Linked DNA regions of Homo sapiens. The protein of the gene in region 1 purifies or fractionates together with the protein of each later gene. This does not show direct contact. Each region holds a gene or a part of one and is shown on either strand. Other genes may lie near its edges.

Evidence for each region. Proteins that work in one complex are often made in the same cells at the same time.
Region 2: the proteins of IRF8 (region 1) and TPM4 purify together in Homo sapiens (affinity purification with mass spectrometry; one large-scale study listed by BioGRID and IntAct). This does not show direct contact.
Region 3: the proteins of IRF8 (region 1) and CA10 purify together in Homo sapiens (co-immunoprecipitation; one large-scale study listed by IntAct). This does not show direct contact.
Region 4: the proteins of IRF8 (region 1) and ETV6 purify together in Homo sapiens (affinity purification with mass spectrometry, with the first as the bait; one study listed by BioGRID). This does not show direct contact.

Annotation. Positions count from the first base shown.
Region 1 is NC_000016.10:85,909,162-85,912,661, reverse strand, and holds part of IRF8 (interferon regulatory factor 8), read right to left. Parts: coding exon 3,489-3,500; intron 1,093-3,488; coding exon 1,004-1,092; intron 1-1,003. UniProt on the Homo sapiens protein: Transcription factor that specifically binds to the upstream regulatory region of type I interferon (IFN) and IFN-inducible MHC class I genes (the interferon consensus sequence (ICS)). Can both act as a transcriptional activator or repressor.
Region 2 is NC_000019.10:16,078,556-16,083,369, forward strand, and holds part of TPM4 (tropomyosin alpha-4 chain), read left to right. Parts: intron 1-2,359; exon of another isoform or gene 2,360-2,397; coding exon of another isoform or gene 2,398-2,520; intron 2,521-3,357; coding exon 3,358-3,491; intron 3,492-4,814. UniProt on the Homo sapiens protein: Binds to actin filaments in muscle and non-muscle cells. Plays a central role, in association with the troponin complex, in the calcium dependent regulation of vertebrate striated muscle contraction.
Region 3 is NC_000017.11:51,630,340-51,635,153, forward strand, and holds part of CA10 (carbonic anhydrase-related protein 10 precursor), read right to left. Parts: intron 3,312-4,814; coding exon 3,137-3,311; intron 1,268-3,136; coding exon 1,245-1,267; 3' UTR 1-1,244. UniProt on the Homo sapiens protein: Does not have a catalytic activity.
Region 4 is NC_000012.12:11,892,337-11,896,252, reverse strand, and holds the end of ETV6 (transcription factor ETV6), read right to left. Parts: 3' UTR 876-3,916; downstream 1-875. UniProt on the Homo sapiens protein: Transcriptional repressor; binds to the DNA sequence 5'-CCGGAAGT-3'. Plays a role in hematopoiesis and malignant transformation.

The DNA.
Region 1 (3,500 bases):
TTGCTTTTCTTGTGACCCCGGTGTGGCAATCCGATTATCTCACTCTCTCAGCTGAGTCAGCAGAAAAGCCTTCTACAGAAAACAGGACATTGGTGGAGGGCCACGAAGCCAAGAATTCACTCAGTCGGCTGCCAAAGACCACCCAGACACTTGGCAGCTGCCTGTGCAGAAGAGCAAGGCCGTTCGGGTAGGTTACATTCTGTTATCTTCATTCTCTGACAGCCAAGCTACTCTTAAGGATTCCATTATTGCTATGTTATTAAGAAGAAGAATTTATGCAGTACTCACACACAACCTTTTGCAAAGGCTGCACGAGGTTTAGTCATGCAAATGTCCACCTTGTAATACCCATGAAAAGCATAGTTAAGAGGCCAAAGACAGAAGAAAAGGGCATCCCAATAGCTGAAATGGGTATACAAAAGCCATGTATTCTTGCCTAAGGAGGCCCCGATTATGCTCTCCCTTGTAGCCTGTTAGGAATTTATGTGCAATGTGAACATGCTTGGTTATCCAGCTTTCCAATCCGTTAAGGAATAAAAACTGCACATTAAAAAGGAAGCAATCAAATAGCCATGAGAGCTGGTACAACAACACCCGCCATCATGACAAGCGCAGGCAGCAAGGAAAGTTTACATTTTGTTCTCTGTAGCCTGCTAGGAAGGCAAGGGAATTCACGATGCCATTTAAAAGACTGCTGTCCAAAGTGTTCGAACAGTTTGGAGCTGGAAGGAACTTCACTGACACATAACCGGCAGCTCAGGCCCAGCCCTAGGGATGAAGGAGGGATCTGGCGTGAGGGGTTGACCTGTCGGCAGAAGCTGGCCTGGGGAGGGGGCGCCCAGCCAGTCCTTCCGTTCCAGATCTGTACAGGTGGAGATGCCACTTCCTCAGCGAGCCCGAGGGTCTGGCTGCCTTCATACAGCAAGAACGGTGCCCCTCCCTGCCAGAAGACATGAGACTCCTCCTGGCAGGGCCAGACCCCTGAAATGCTGCCTCTGCTTACCTCCTTGATCAGCTCGTCGATTTCAGAGCGACCGCACTCCATCTCTGTAACTTCATTCACGCAGCCAGCAGTTGCCACGCCTAGTTTGCCTACAGAAAACCAGACAAACACCATGACACATGGCACGGAGGCATCACAGCCTTTGCTGAAGCCATAATCTACTCTGTAAATGCTGAGTTTAAGGAAACATTAAGTTAGTGAGTGTCTTCATTGGTTTGGGAAAGGCACAGAATTTTTTTCCCATGCTTCAGTCATCTGATCAGCAAAGTCAAAAGAGAGAAGTTGGTGGTGGTGGTGGTGGTGGTTGTTTCTGCTAACACTTTTAAAGGATAAAGACAGCACTTTGGTCTCTTTCTTCTATTTTCTGAGATCCAAAATGAGTCTGTATCAGATATACTTTACAGCAAGCATTTGCTAACTTAAGAAGGTTACATTTATAAGACAGGGCATTTGAAAACACTCACCGATTTCCTGGCAAAACGTGTTGGCAGGTTGGGGTCTTTTTTGTATTGCCAGTTGGCAGGAAATCTCTTTTTGGCCTTTCCAAATATACACATGTGCATCAGTGCACACAGCCATGCACACACACACACCGCAGCACCCTCACTGATGCCCAGTGGGCACCAGCCGTAATCACAAACCGCCTAAAGGTGCACAGTGTCCACAGGGGCACGCTGGGCCAGCCTCTGCTCTTTCCCTTCTCATGCCGCTTCCTCAGTCGACAACTTACCTTATGAAGTTTATCAGTGTGAGACGTATCACAACCAACACTTACAAAAATTCATTATTCCCAGTGACCTACAGAATTTACCCACTGTTTCCTCCTGGCTGAATTTTGATTCCATTTCGATAGATTAAAGAATTCACTGAGAAGCTACTGATGGGGAAGTAGGGAGCAGGTGGGGCGCCCACCATGGAGCCTGCAAACCACTGAGGTTAGAGGCGAGTGGGCCCCTGTAGGCAATTATGCAAATGCTACATTGCTTCACCCCTGAGAACCTCCTGCTGCTTCTTTAACATCACTAGCAGGTGATGCTGGCTGCACCCCATGCTATAAACAAGTTGGGGTCACCTGCCGGTTCAAGCCTGACTGATCTTGGGGGTGGCAGTAGGGGCCAAAAGAAACTTCTCTATTCCTTCAAATCACACTTTACTTTTTGGTGATAAAAAAAATTGTCCAAAACTGGGAAATGAGGCAAAAAGATGACTGCTTAGCCTTTCAGGGTCACCCCAGACTATTATATAGAGGTTTCCTCCTAAAGGGCACCCGATTCTCCAAGGGAAGGTCAGTTTGTTGGCCTTACTATTTAGTATTGACTAGGGTTCACGCTCAGTAGAGTTAGGTGCTAATTGCAGACGATTAGGCTACAAACGCCCCAAACCGCAATTGTACTGTCCGGGTCGGGCATCGGCTTTGGCTCAGCTTTCTCGTTCATGGGCCACATTCACCAGCACCTCGGATTCTCTGTCCACCATCTTTACCATCATGCTGCCTCCTTCATGACGATTACACAACTCTCTGACACAGATTCACTATAGATTTGTTTGAATCACCATTTTAACTTCTTAAAAAATTCTAAGTCAACACCCCCACAGCGGGAAGAGTGCAAACTTCAAACTTCTGCACAGCCCCAAGAAGTTTTGGGGGTTTCTGTTTCTTACAGGCATTCGTGGACTACTCAGAAGCTTAGAAGGAGAAAGCCAGAGTGGGTTATTCTAAAAGCCTCATCAAGTGGCTAAGAAAATCAATGTGTTAAAAGCATGTTCTAAACCAGCGCTGGTAATTAGGTTTTATCTCATAAATCAGCTACAATTCATGGCAGCGGCACAGCACAGGGCTTTGAGAAGCCTTCTGAGGCCAGATCCCAGCTCAGTACTTTGGGATTTATTTTAGTGATGTAGGACCAGGGTGCGGCATGTTTTTGCTGTCCTGCTTTAATCTGTCACAAATGCTTTCTTGGGATTTGAGAGCTGGAAGAAACCTCAGGAATGATCACATCCCGGAGTTCCCAAATAACAATCAGGATCTAGTAACACACTGAGGCATATCCCATCTCCAACAACGAAGGCCATGGTGCCATCTTTGACAACTTCATCTGAGAGCTTTACTCCCAACCCTCATGATCCAGGCCTTCTGTGGTCACCATATTTTCCCCTGGCCTCCTCTGCAAGCTGCTGGAAAATGAAAGGATTCCTCATCAGAAACTGCTGGAGGATGCTTGTTCCTGTCCAGGGAGGCCCTACAAATGTCTGTGGTCAGGCAGCAAGTGGGGCACAGGTTGGGCAGCACCCAATCTCCTCCGCCCTTCCCTCTGAGGTCACTGGAAAGAGATCTCAATTTCTGCTTACACGAAGGAGAGAACTGCTTTGTTTAACTGAAACTATGTGCCCCAGACCCTGTGTCTACCCCAGACCCAAGTTCTGTGGTGAAGGCTACAGGCCAGGGCAGCTTCTGGAAGGTTTCATGCCCATAAAGGATAGTTACATTTTTGCTCTT
Region 2 (4,814 bases), on another chromosome or scaffold:
GGCCTCTTTCTCACACTTAACCGACACAGCTCTTGCTCTGATCTCATCCCAAGTCATCTCGCTGGAGGACAATTAACTCGGCTTCAAAATGGCCCTCAGCCTGGAGCCAAGATTTAGGAGCAAGACCGTCTAGTTGGGAGAGAAGATGTTTTTGGAGAGTTGAAGACTTCTTGAAAAAGTTCGAAAAGTTCTTGAAAAAGCAAAGGATGCTTCTTTCCGTCTGGGAGAGGGAAAACCTCTCCCAGGGCAAAAGGAACTAAGACCAGGGGTGGGTTAAAAAAAAAAAAAAAAAAACCTTTCACTCTTGTAGAATAAGCCAGGAGCCGGCGTGTGGTAGACTTCTGGGCCTGTTTCCCGACAGCTGGTTTCGTTTAGATTTTTGTGTGATTAACTGACATCTTCCTGTTCCTTTGCCACATGTATCTAGCAAGCCTCTTTTACCTTATAAGGGAAATCCTTTGTAGCGTGTGGAAGGCTTTGATTGCAGGAAGGGGTGGAACCCAAAATGACTCGGCCGTGACTAGCAGTTTTTCAAAAATACATATATATGTATGCATGTACAGATATGCGTGTATCTCCCAACTCCAGACAGCTGAAAATCTGCCAAAAGCGTTGTTTGCCAGGATTCAGAATTTCCCACATAAGGGCTACTCACTTCTTAAAAGACAACTCATGAATCAAGCACCTCTGTTTGATCTTTAAAATCAATTCCTCGACTGCTAATGGGTACACAGTTTTTTGTTTGTTTGTTTGTCTTTGGCGGGTTATGAAAATGTCCTGGAATTCGATAATGGTGTTGGTTGCAGAGTGTTTTTGCAACATCAGTTCCTGGCCCAGTTACTGAAGGTGGTAGGAGGAGTTAAGATCTAGGCAATTAAAAAGAATGAAAGGCACCCATTCATGGGAAGGCCTCAGTGACGTTTCTTAAGACAGTTTCATCAGTGGTTTTCACAATTCTCTGCATTTGGTGTTTCAGAGGACACTGCAATACGAAACACCTGTGGGAGTGCCCTCTTTCTGCTTCTAGGAATCTGAGGCTGAGAAACCTTCCTGACTCTATTTGTGTAGTTTTTCGGCCACGTTAGCCTCATTCTATTTTTTTTTCCCCCAGTATGAACTCAGGGCAGGAGAGGGAGTGGTTTCCTAATAATTTTTTTTTTTTGAGACGGAATCTTGCTCTGTTACCCAGGCTGGAGTGCAGTGGCGCGATCTCGGCTCATTGCAACCTTCACCTCCCGGGTTCAAGCGATTCTCCTGCCTCAGCCTCCCAAGTAGCTGGGATTACAGGCGCCTGCCCCCACACCCAACTGATTTTTTTGTATTTTTAGTAGAGATGCGGTTTCACCATGTTGGCCAGGCTGGTCTCGAACTCCTGACCTCATGTGATCCACCCACCTCCGCCTCCCAAAGTGTTAGGATTACGGATGTGAGCCACCGCGCCCGGCCTTCCTAATAATTTTGATAGCCTTCCCCAGTTCAGGGATTCTTCATTTGTTCTGATAGGAAAAAGCTAGCGTGGCTTCCCTTTTCCTCTCGGTTGAGGCCCGTTTGACCCGTTCTCAATATTCCTTCCAAAGAGCAGGCATCGCTGGAAAACTCGCCTTGCCTCGTAGCCCTGGCAGGACCTAGGGGACAGGTTCTGACAAGGAAGAGCCCTGGGTGGGTCTTAAGAGGCCATTCATTTCTTACCAATTCTGAGTCACTGAATAAAACCACTTCCCCCAGTGGGGCCCCTCGGTTTCTTCACCTGTAAAATGGGTGCGATGTGTGAGGATGAAATTGCAGTAAAATAAAACCGTGGCAGTAAGAGATGCCTTTCTCTGGCACATCCCACCTGCTGGGCATAAGCGGCGCCACCCTCTGGAGTTACAGCCTCAAGGCAGTCCGGTAACTAATCAGGCTTTGGGATGGAGAGGGCCAGGATGAGGAAGCAACCTTCCCAACACCACGTGGCTGTGAAAATGACAAAGCACGGTCGGGCGCAGTGGCTCACGCCTGTAATCCCAGTACTTTGGGAGACCAAGGCGGGTGGATCACGTGAGGCCAGGAGTTTGAGACCAGCCTGACCAACAAGACGAAACCCTGTCTCTACTAAAAATACAAAAAAATAGCAAGGCGTGGTGGTGTCCGTCTGTAATCCCAGCTACTCAGGAGGCTGAGGCAGAATTGCTTGAACCCGGGAGGTAGAAGTTGCAGCAAGCCGAGATCATGCCATTGCACTCCAGCCTTGGTGACGGCGCAAGACTCCATCTCAAAAAAAAAATTAAAAAGAAAATGACAAAGCGGGGATTCCAGCCCAGCACTTTTTGGCCCTGGAGTTCCTGGTTTAATGCTTCCCATTGTACTTCCTTTCTTGTAGGTAAAAACACCTTGAAAAGCCAATAACACTATTGGGGTATGTCTTCCATGCCTGCAACCAAGTTTTCTTTCCCTTTCCATATCTTTTTGTCCTGCCATCTCTCAGCCAGGCGGATTGAAGGATGGAATTCCAACGAGGCTCCCCCGCCTCGTCCCACCTTGGTAATTGCATGGCCAACATTTAACTGAGGGCTCCATAGTCTTGCATTTATCTTGCCATTCAGGTGAATGGGAGCGGAACTCACAGGACACAATGAGCCGGGTCACTGATGGCCTTGCTTTCTAAGAATCTCACAGTGAGCCCTAGAACTCTCTACGTGGTAACACTGTGTGCCTTTTTCAGAGAAGAGCCTATCTTAGATCTTAGCCTAACGTTGGGTCTATTGTGTTGCTGGAGAGACCAGCACTGACATTCATCTCAAAGCACATGGTATGTTTGACTCCTATGTTGACTCAACTACCCATCTTGTACTGGGACACTCGCTTTTTTTTTTTTTTTTTGAGACGGAGTCTTGCTCTGTCACCAGGCTGGAGTGCAGTGGCACGATCTCAGCTCACGGCAACCTCCGCCTCCCGGGTTCAAGTGATTCTTCTGCCTCAGCCTCCTGAGCATGTGGAACTACAGGCACGTGCCACCACACTCAGCTAATTTTTCTATTTTTAGTAGAGACAGGGTTTCACCACGTTGGCCAGGATGGTCTCGATCTCTTGACCTTGTGATACACCCACCTCAGCCTCCCAAAGTGCTGGGATTACAGGCATGAGCCACCACGCTTGGCGATGCTCATCTTTTGCTATGGAGTGGTAGATGTTTTTCCCAGACATTTTCCGGGAAGATCATACTGAAATTTTGGTATGAGTGTAAATTCCCTATGGCCTGGACTCCTGGGTGGGCTTTGACGGGGAAGATCAGGTTAACAGAGGGCAGGACATGGGGGAGGCTCCCACTGGTGGCTGGCCTGATACTTCTTAACATGGCTGCACCTCCGACCTCCCCAGGCTGAAGGTGATGTGGCCGCCCTCAACCGACGCATCCAGCTCGTTGAGGAGGAGTTGGACAGGGCTCAGGAACGACTGGCCACGGCCCTGCAGAAGCTGGAGGAGGCAGAAAAAGCTGCAGATGAGAGTGAGAGGTAAGGACGCTTTGAATCTGGTGGCATCCGTGTTTGCTTTTAGAAAATGGGGATCATGCTGCCGACCTCGCAGAGCTGGTGTGAAAGTAAACAAGGTCACAAGGACATGCATGTGTCCACAAAAAAGTGCATGACAGCACTTTGTAAACCATCACTCCATGGGTAGAGATGTTTATCCGTGGCCAGGCACGGTGGCTCATGCCTGTAATCCCAGCACTTTGGGAGGCCAAGGCGGACGGATCACCTGAGGTTGGGAGTTTGAGACCAGCCTGGCCAACATGGTGAAACCCCGTCTTTCCTAAAAGTACAAAAAAATTAGCCTGCCATGGTGGCGGGCACCTGTAATCCCAGCTACTCAGGAGGCTGAGGCAAGAGAATCTCTTGAACCCAGGAGGCAGAGGCTGCAGTGAGCCGAGATCGTGCCATTGCACTCCAGCCTGGGCAACAAGAGCAAAACTCCATCTCAAAATAAAGTGAGGGGTGTTTATCCTTACGGTAACCATGAAAAGAAACTTCCGACAGACAGAAAGGCAAACAGAACGGGCAGATGTGAGACTGCAAGTATGACTGTCCATGGTGGTCAGTTTGCAAAGCACTGCTTCTCGTATTTTCTCTGAAAGCCACAGTGCCTCTTAGTGTTCTCTAGACACCAAATTTCAGGTAGGCCGGATGCAGTGATTCCTGCCTGTGCTCCCAGCACTTTGGGAGGCAGAGGCGGGCAAATCGCCTGAGCTCAGGAGTTCAAGACCAACTGGGGCAATGTGGTGAGACCCTGTCTCTACAAAAAATACAAAAATTAGCCGGGTGTGGTGGTGCACGCCTGTACTCCTGGCTACTCAAGAGGCTGAGGTGGGAGGATCACTTGACCCCAAGAGTTTGAAGCTGCAGTGAGGCAAGATTGTGCCACTGCACTCCAGCCTCAGTGACAGATGAGATTCTGTCTCAAAAAAAAAAAAAAAAAAAAAAAAGCAGAGTACTGTGGAGAGGAGGAAAGGAAACTTGGGATGCACAGGTGATTGTTAGCAGAGCTGTCAGGCTTTAGGCTTTTGGACGGTGACAGCTATTTCAGGGACAGTTGCAAACCAGCATGGTTAATGTACTTGCAACTGACCATGCACCAGGTGCCGTGGCTCACGCCTATAATCCCAGCACTTTGCGATGACGAGGCGGGTGGATCAACTGAGGTCAGGTGTTTGAGACCAGACTGGCCAACATGGTGAAACCCCGTCTCTATTAAAAATACACAAATTAGCTGGGCGTGGTGGCGGGCACCTGTAATCCCACCTACTCAGGAGGCTAAGGCAAGATCCCCCAGCTTGAACC
Region 3 (4,814 bases), on another chromosome or scaffold:
TTGATTTCTTGACAGTAACCAAACACAGTGAGTGACCATTATAAACAAGAAAAGAAAGGCATTCGTTTTGTACTTTGTGAGATCTGGCTGCACCTGGAGAGAAAACATACCCCTTTCCCAGGAACTTACAAGGCAAAGTGCATTCCTTCACGGGAGCATCACAGGGGGGCATGGCAGTTTTGAAACGCAAGAAGTCTGTCGCCTGCTATCTCAGGCTGAAGCTCACCTCATGTGAATGATTGAGCCATGGAGTGGAATTAAAGTCATACTTGCTTAGCAAATGCATTCCTGATTGCCACAAACTCAGTAAAAACTGGCTGCAAATGAACAAAACATGTAGATGAAGGAACAAGTGAAATCAAAGAATGCAGTTGCATGGAGCCAGGGCTTAGCCTGTAAGGAAGGAGAACAGACCAAAGCCAGAAAAATGAAATTAACTCGTTAAACACATTTATTGAGCTGGTAACAATAACCAAACACAATGTATGACCTTTGGAAAACAAGAAACAGCAAATGGATCATTTCTGATCTTGGCAAATCCTACTACAGATATGTGACAAAGAGGGAAATAATTCCATTTCCTTATAGTCTGTGGTGATATATATACAATGTGTAGCTCTTCAATGTCTGTCCTTTTTTTCTTTGTAAATTGTTGAGTAAACAGAAGAATCATAATCTAGAAATAAGTGTCCTTGGTCAACTTTGTCCTGCTCACCTGCTACCAGCACCCTCAAAGGATCCTAGGACACTATCTGAAATTACTTGATGCAAAGTCCGTTTGATGCCATCAGAGCTGTATTTTCTCCTCTCTCTTTTGGAAGAATTTTGTATGTACAAAGGCTGAAAAGTCTCATTGGGTAGATTTATTAGTTCAGGAAAACGGTATCAAAATTGAAATCAGGTTAACTGGTTATTTTCTTCTAAGACCTCTTATGAATGAGACTTTTGTTTCTGAAACTTGACTTCCCATGATGGAGGTTGTAAGAGTGTGTGTGTGTGTAGGTATGTTTGCATGTGTTTGTATGTATGTGCAAGTGCTTGTGTGTGTGTTTGTGAGTATGTGTGAGAGATGTATTCCTCTGCCATGGTTTTGCAGACACTTTTCATGAAGAAAGGGCCAATCCCAAGAATGAATGAGGCTTGGGGGAAAGAAGGAGAGAGAAGCAAGAAGGGGGACATTCTAGGTTACGTCAATTCACAGTTGTAGCATTTCACTGAGGTGGGATTCTTCTTGGCTTTGTTCCCTACTTGAGGAGCCATTCATTTACTGCAAAGAGAGAGAAAGAAAAAAAAAATCACACATACAACATAAAACGAGGCATACTCAATTAATTTGCACACAGTTTTAGAGAATTCCTCCAGAGGGGAAGGGACTGTTTTGTAAATGCCTGCTTACTTATATGCATTCCAACTACTCCCTTCCAATTCTCCATGACCTTCTAGGCCTATACTGACCAATATGGTGGCCACTAGCTGCCATATGTGGCTACTATGAATTTAAATTAATTAAAATAAAAAATTAGTTGCATCATTGTACTAGTCACCCATCCAATGTTCAATAGCCACATATGGCTAGTAGCTGCTGTATTGGGCAGTGCAGGATAGTCATCAACCTATCATGAAAACATTCCCATTACCACAGAAAGTTCTAGTGGATGACACTGCTCTAGGCTAGGGATGGAAAAACAACAGTCCACAGATCTAATCCAGCACAATACCTGTTTTTATAAATAAAGTTTTATTGGAACACAGCCATACCCATTCATTTAGATATTATCAATGGCTGATTTCATACTACAATGTCAGAGTGCCATAGAGATTTTATGGCTTCAAAACTTAACATATTTACTCTCTGTCCTTTATAGAAAAAGTGTGTAGACTCCTGTTGTAGACCATATGCTCTGTTTGGATAGGTGTCTTATCTGTCACCCATCACCCAGCTAACTGACACATGGTAGGAACACAATACAGGGGTTTTGACTAAAGAGAAGAAGCAATGAATGAGTTAGGTATTTACTTTTCTGGTAGTTCCGGCTGGAAGGGTGTGGAAAATATGTAGTTTGGGCATGCAAGTGTATCTGAGAGAGAAAAAAGAAGGGAACAAGGGGGAAGTAGGAGGAATGAAGTGGAGGATCAAGGAGTAGTGGTGGAGGCTGCTTCTAAAAGCTGTCTGGTAATAACCACAGCCCTCCTATTTGGGGAGCATGTTATTGCTACAAAGGGCTTCCCTATCCAGGCTCTTGTTTGCTTCCTTTAACAAACTGTGAAGTAGATGGCATAGGAACTGTCACGAAGAAGCCAGGTCTAGGGGGTAAACAATGTGGCTGGGTTTGCACAGCTTGTTAGAACTAGGCCCAGAACTTGGGTGTCCTGATTTCCAGTCCAGGGCTCTCCAAGACCCCATCCTTCCTCCATCTTTCTTTCCACACTGAGTGTTTACCACAATGATTAACAGATGTTTAGTAGTAAGCAGAAGGGAAGAGAGAGAGGGCTGGGTGTGCACCACAGAGTTACAGGAGGCAGATGTCAACTTAAATGTCCCCTTTAGTGGGAATAATAACCATTTCTAGGGACATAGCACTGGGCAAAGATACACTCACAAATTACCCCATTGGATTCTAATGGCCTGCCCTTTAGAGTATTTGTTCATCTTCTAGGGGAAAGCAGGTCTTTCTTCCATATACTTAAAAGCTCTAATGCTTTTCACTGTCCTGTTCTAACAGATAACCTTGGGAACATCAGCCTTTCTGGGCTCTTTTGAAAAATGGCAATAAAAAGCTGTCTTGCCTGATCTACAGGGGTTTTAAAGGTTTGATATATGTGTTTAAAGGTTACATATATATATATCTCACATATATCAAACCTCTACACCTTGCCATCTACCTACCGTCCATCCATCCATCCATCCACTTACTTACCTACCTACCAACCTACCTAGATGCATTCATACAGGTATCTGTATCACATATATCAAAACTTTAGACCTTCATCACCATGCAAATGGAGTGTGATGGCTATTGTCATTTACAGTCATCATTCCTATAATGGAAGATAATGCCAGGCCTTTAAGAACAGGTCTAAGCAGAAAGACTGAGCTCTAGCCTAGATCCTCCACTCTCTGAGCCACCAAACCCACCTCTATACTGAAGCTTCTGGGCTCGGTTGTTTGGACAGTCCTTCCCCTGTAAACTGAAGTTGATATTGGTGCGGATGCAGCGGTTGTTGAGTGGCTGGACAGGCCTGAAGTTGTCACTCATGCTCAGAAAGATCTGAGATGGCTGGTTCTGGCTGAGCAGGCGCAAGGAATGCATCTGAGGAGAGAGAAGTGGCCGTGAGATCCAACCATCCTCTTAAATGCACTAGGGAAGAAATAAGACCACAGAGACTCTGGCCAAGCTAGGTGGTATTGGCTGTATGAGGAAAGGGCTGTATAAGCCCCACAGAGTCCCTTTTTTCCATGGGTTCAGTTGAGCTGAAGGCCCATTATACCTCCACACATGAAGCCAGCCTTTCTTCTAGCTTACTAGCTTGTGTATGCCTCTGAACAAGTCACTTGCGCTCTCTCACCCTCAAATGCAGCATCCAAAAAAGGAGCAAATCTGGTTAGGTTTCTCTAAGGTTCTTTCTTTCTTTGATACTCTTTGGTTCAATAATTCCATGACTCCCACATGGTATTACGTGGATCATAGTGATTGGTCCATGGGTCAGAGCTAAACTAAGCTGGACCAGTTTGGTTTCTTTTCTGTGAGACTATGAGGGCCAGGTGGCTGGACTGTTTGCAGCCATGTTCTGCCACAGGACTGTGAGGCAAAAGAAGACGGTCTCTAGCAGGAGAGAAGAATGAAGTGAATGTGTGGTGAGAAGAGGACAACAGAGAGAAAGCACTTCTGGGGTTCCCATTTCAGTGAATTTCTGATGTCAATTTCTGATTTTAAATTCTCTAAGATGCCCTCGTAGCTCTCAAATAAATGCTTTTTCTAAGCTTAAGTGGGGAGTTACTGTTGCCTGTCACCCAGTGGGTCCCATTCAATACAGATAGGTTAAGGAACTTCAAATTGTTCAAATGGTGGTCAGGTGGGAACACATATCCCGTCAAGGATATTGGCTTCTGCTTCCTTTGCTCATCTCTCCTTTAATTTGTTATAGACTCCCACAGTCGTAGAATGTCAGAGCTGGAGCAAACTCATGTAATTTATCCCCCTCTCAATAAAGAAGAGGAGTGTTCATTTCATAGAGGTGGGTGACAGGCCTGAAGAGCACAATAAGCCGTGTAGCCAAGCTCACACAGGAGGACCCATCTGCCTCCCATCCAGTTCTGATGAGTACTAACTCTGTGAGATGATCCAAAAAAAACACTGCACATTCAAATATGTGTGCAAAATACTACATATCATACCACTTCCTCTTGAAGACTGACACATATATTAGCATTTAAGAAGGACCCCAGAAATCCTTCAACAATGGAATCTATTTAACTTTTTAAAACCCAACTTTTTCAAATGCATAATGACATCTTCCATTTTGCTTGCTTGCTTTCTGAACACTGTAGTTGTAGAATACACTCTGGGAATTAATGGCTATCTTTTCCCACTGAGACAGTTGAGATGCTTCTATAATTAGCTCAGGCTAAGCCTTTTGGATGCTGGCTCTTTAAACCCAGGCATATGGGTTGAATCGTGTACCCCTGAAATTCATAAGCTGAAGGTACTGGTAACCCCTAGTTGCTCAGAATGTGACCTTATTTGGAAATAGTCATTGCAGATGGAATGAGCTAAGACAAGCTTATTGGGGTTAGGCTTTAATGGAATACAGAA
Region 4 (3,916 bases), on another chromosome or scaffold:
AGAAATAGTAGCTTCGAATGCATTTTTAGCACCACAAAAAAAATATCTAGACCCTTATTTGATACTGTGCTCTGATCATACAGAATATAGGGCCAAATTTCAGCAATCATTCTCAGGGGATACAGAGTAACTGGGTTAACCTAAAGACAAAAGTAAACTAAGAACATTTTCTGAGACTGCTGATTTCTTAGACATTTTGAACCTCCGCCCAATTTGCTCAACAGCAATGCATTTGCTTCCTCTTCCATTCTTCCCCTTGTTTCCACCCACTTCTGATGGCAGATAGTTCTGGTCAAGTGCAGAATGTTTGATCTTGAACTCCCAAGTGCCCACTGGTTGGTGGGTGGCTCTGTTGGTCAGGTTGGCTGGGACATTCTGAGCATGTGGGCTGGCTCTGAGCTGTGTGATGACCTTCTAGGTCATTACAGTCCTGTATTTAGTCATAGGATCTATCCCAGCCCTTACGCCTTCATCACCTGGTAGGCTTAGACCTCTGATCTCAGCAGATTTAAGGGGCAATTCTATTGTGTGAGGACCTGGCATTGCTAAGTTCTCAGTGAGCTAATAAACCTTCACCACAGCATGGGACCCAAGCATCTCTGATCACGGTTCCTCTTGGTAATTCTTCCACCTGTGGCAGCTGCTCAGCTTGGAATGGTTCACTCTGACCTTTCCGGTACCACTTGTCTAAAGATCGCCTGCAGACTGCCCTGCAGCGGAGACTTGCTGCCAGAGAAAAACCATGATTGCCCTTTATACCATAATTGAGTGGAGACAGGATTTACCTCATCGGAGCACCTTGTCTGACTCCATTTCATATTATTAAAAACAGAGACTCTGGACTTCATGGTTTTTTTTTTTTTATAAAAAATTTATTGAGATGATGTAATTATAGGCTTTTCTTTAAAAATTATTTGCAACTCACTGGCCCTGAGAAAAGGCATTTTTTTTTGTTTTTTTTTTCTTTTTTGTTACATTCATTTGATTCAGTCCCTTATAAACCCCACACCTCATAAACAAGAGATTAGAAACTAAACAAAAAGGGGGGCGGGGAAGGAAATTCTAGAGTCGTTCTGGTTTGCAGGTGGTTGCGGTCACAAAGAGAAATCATCAAGAATGTTCACTTGGCATGTGTGAAAGATTCAGGGGGTCTGCAGCTGTTTAGTGTTGATGCAGTTGGGTCAAAAGAGTATCAGGTTAGTCTTCTGTGGGTTTTAGGGAGGGATTATGGTGCCTCCCTCCCACCCCACTGGCTTCCTTGTGTCACAGCCTTTATTTCTACTCCGAAGAGGAGCAGGAGAGAGTGAACAGCCTCTAACTAGCACCAAATGCTTGGGCAAAGAAAACTGCCCCTTTTTCTTGGTGTGTTTTCCCAAATCTTTTATCTTCAGTTTCCTGGGTGGGAATGAGCCACACAGGGTGAGCCCAGGCTGGATCCTGAGCCTAATTCCATTCTTGGCATGCTGTCTGCTCCTAGGGCAAGTCACTTCACCTCCCTGACACCCAGGTTTCTTTTTTGCAAAAGGGAGTTCCTATTTCAAAAATGTATTCAGACTTGGAGCCTAGGCAGTGAAAGGTGGGAATGGTGGTTACTTCATCATTTCGGTAAATTGTCACAGCCATTTGAATTTCAGCTAAAGCGACATTCTCATTTGGACAAGAGATCAGTATCAAAAGACATTGGATCAGAGGGTTCCAAACATACTGGTGAAAGGAGAAAATCCATTGGTCTATTATTCCTCTTTTTCTGTGGGGATACCCTCATCTCCCTAAAGGATTTGGAACATTGGTGATGCCACCTTAAGCAAAACCAAGTCGCCCTGGGTCAAGATCTTAGAGTTCATGTTACCTTCAACATAGCCAGTCTAGCCAATTACCAGTGCTTTCTTCTGATAGAGAGGAGACTGCCTGGCTAGCTTGAGATGTAGGAATGAGAACTTCAAGACCCAAGTGAGAATGCACATCCATCACACGGCAGGGCTCCTTTGCATTTTCCTCTCCTGACTTCAGATTTGTCTCCTGACAACACCCCTAGTACTTAGTGTTGAAATGAGTCACGCCGGGTGGATTAGGCAGGTACAATATAAACTCTGAAAGCAGGGATTATGGCTGATTGAGCTTTGGGTCCCTCAGTGTCCAGCAGGTGCTTCATCAAGGTTTGCTAACTGAATCTGAAATCTTTAGGGTCTGCAGGGTGTAAATACTGTATCCAGGTGCTGGCACTACCCGGGTTTTCTCATAAAGAACAAATGAAGAGGACATTTGCAGTTAGGGGAATTACGAAATCCTTATTGGTAGTACAGATTGATATCCCTTATCTGAAATGCTTGGGACCAGAAGTGTTCTGGGTCTCGGATTTTTAAATGTTTTTTTTTGTATCCTGGAATATTTGTGTATGTGTGTGTGTGTGTATATATATATATATATATATATATATATATATATATATATATATATAAAATGAGAGATCTTGGGGATGGACACAAAGTCTAAACACAAAATTCATTTATGGCTCATATATACTTTATACACATAGCCTGAAGGTAATTTTATGATATTTGAAATCATTTTCTATATAAAACAGTTTGTGTACATTGAACCATAAGAAAGCAAATGTGTTTGTTAGGTGTGGAATTTTCCACTCATGGTGTCATAGCGTTCAGGAAGGTTTGGATTTTGGGGCATTTGGGGGTTTTAACTGTTCAGATTAGGGATGCTCAACCTGTATCTGAATGGGAAATAAAGACTATATTGGAATGAGCGCCTTCTATTTCTTCTTCAAGTGGCTGAAGGTATCATCCTAAGTCTAACATATTCTCCTGGGATATTGCTTTAAATATAGAAATGCTTGGGGCAAAAGGGAATTTCCCTCCATAATTCAACTGTTAAGATTCTTTGAACAGTAAGAGACTGAGTTCTTGCACTTGGGTGAAGAGGCCAGACTGAGAGGCTCTAATCCTAGCAACATCATGCCCTGGTCTCTGATTTCATATTCATACAGAGGGATGCAGTAAAAAATCCCTTTCTCTCCATTCTTAAAATCAGTGGCTTTCACAATACATCAGGTATTTGGCTTAATCTCTGCATTTCAGATAGAATACCAGTCATCTTAGAGGCTGAAATAGGGATCACCATGTCCTACTGAATGCTCTCAAAAGACACCTGCAGCGTGCTGAGATCCAGCAGAATCTCATCACCATTCAAGCAGACTGAGACCCACTCGCCTCATATAGAAGGTCCCTGACCTCCCGGAAGGTTGAATGGTGGGGCGCCTGTGACAGTAGGAGTGGGCTGGCTATGCCCGTGTGTCTACCTGTGCTCTGATAAGAGGCAGGGACAGAGCAAGGCTGAAGAGAGCCTTGATCAGCTCCTCAATTCCAGTGTCCTTGAACCATAGTCCATCTGTTTGCACCCTAGGTTGGTGTCCTTGTCAGTAAGGCCGAGGGAAAATTCCTCTTGCCTGTGTGACCCAAACTCTACATGTCTGACTCAACTCAGAAAAAGCTGGGGAGAAGCCCAGGGGTCTGGTAACTTCACCTGGGAGCTGCTGCTGAGGGCACATATGTATCCCGGAGGAGCTGTGAGTTTCTCCCCCAACTGAGTAGAGGAAACAGAGGGGAACAAGGAGGGGGTGCTTTGTAAGGCAGGTGTAATCTGGATTAAAAGAAATTGTACTCCAAATATTGGATTTCTGAGACCTATATTGGAAGAGTCAATTTAGATGGCTAGAAAAGGAAAAAAAAAAAAAATCTAAAACAGCTTTCAAAAATACTAAGAAGTGGCACTACCCTCATTTTACAAGATACCATCGATCTTATTTTGAGGTGAAAAAGAGCCACAAATGGGTCCTTTCTGAGACACAGCTATGAAAGAAAGAAAAAATAATGTATCCGAGGAATTTCCTGTCTGCCCAGGC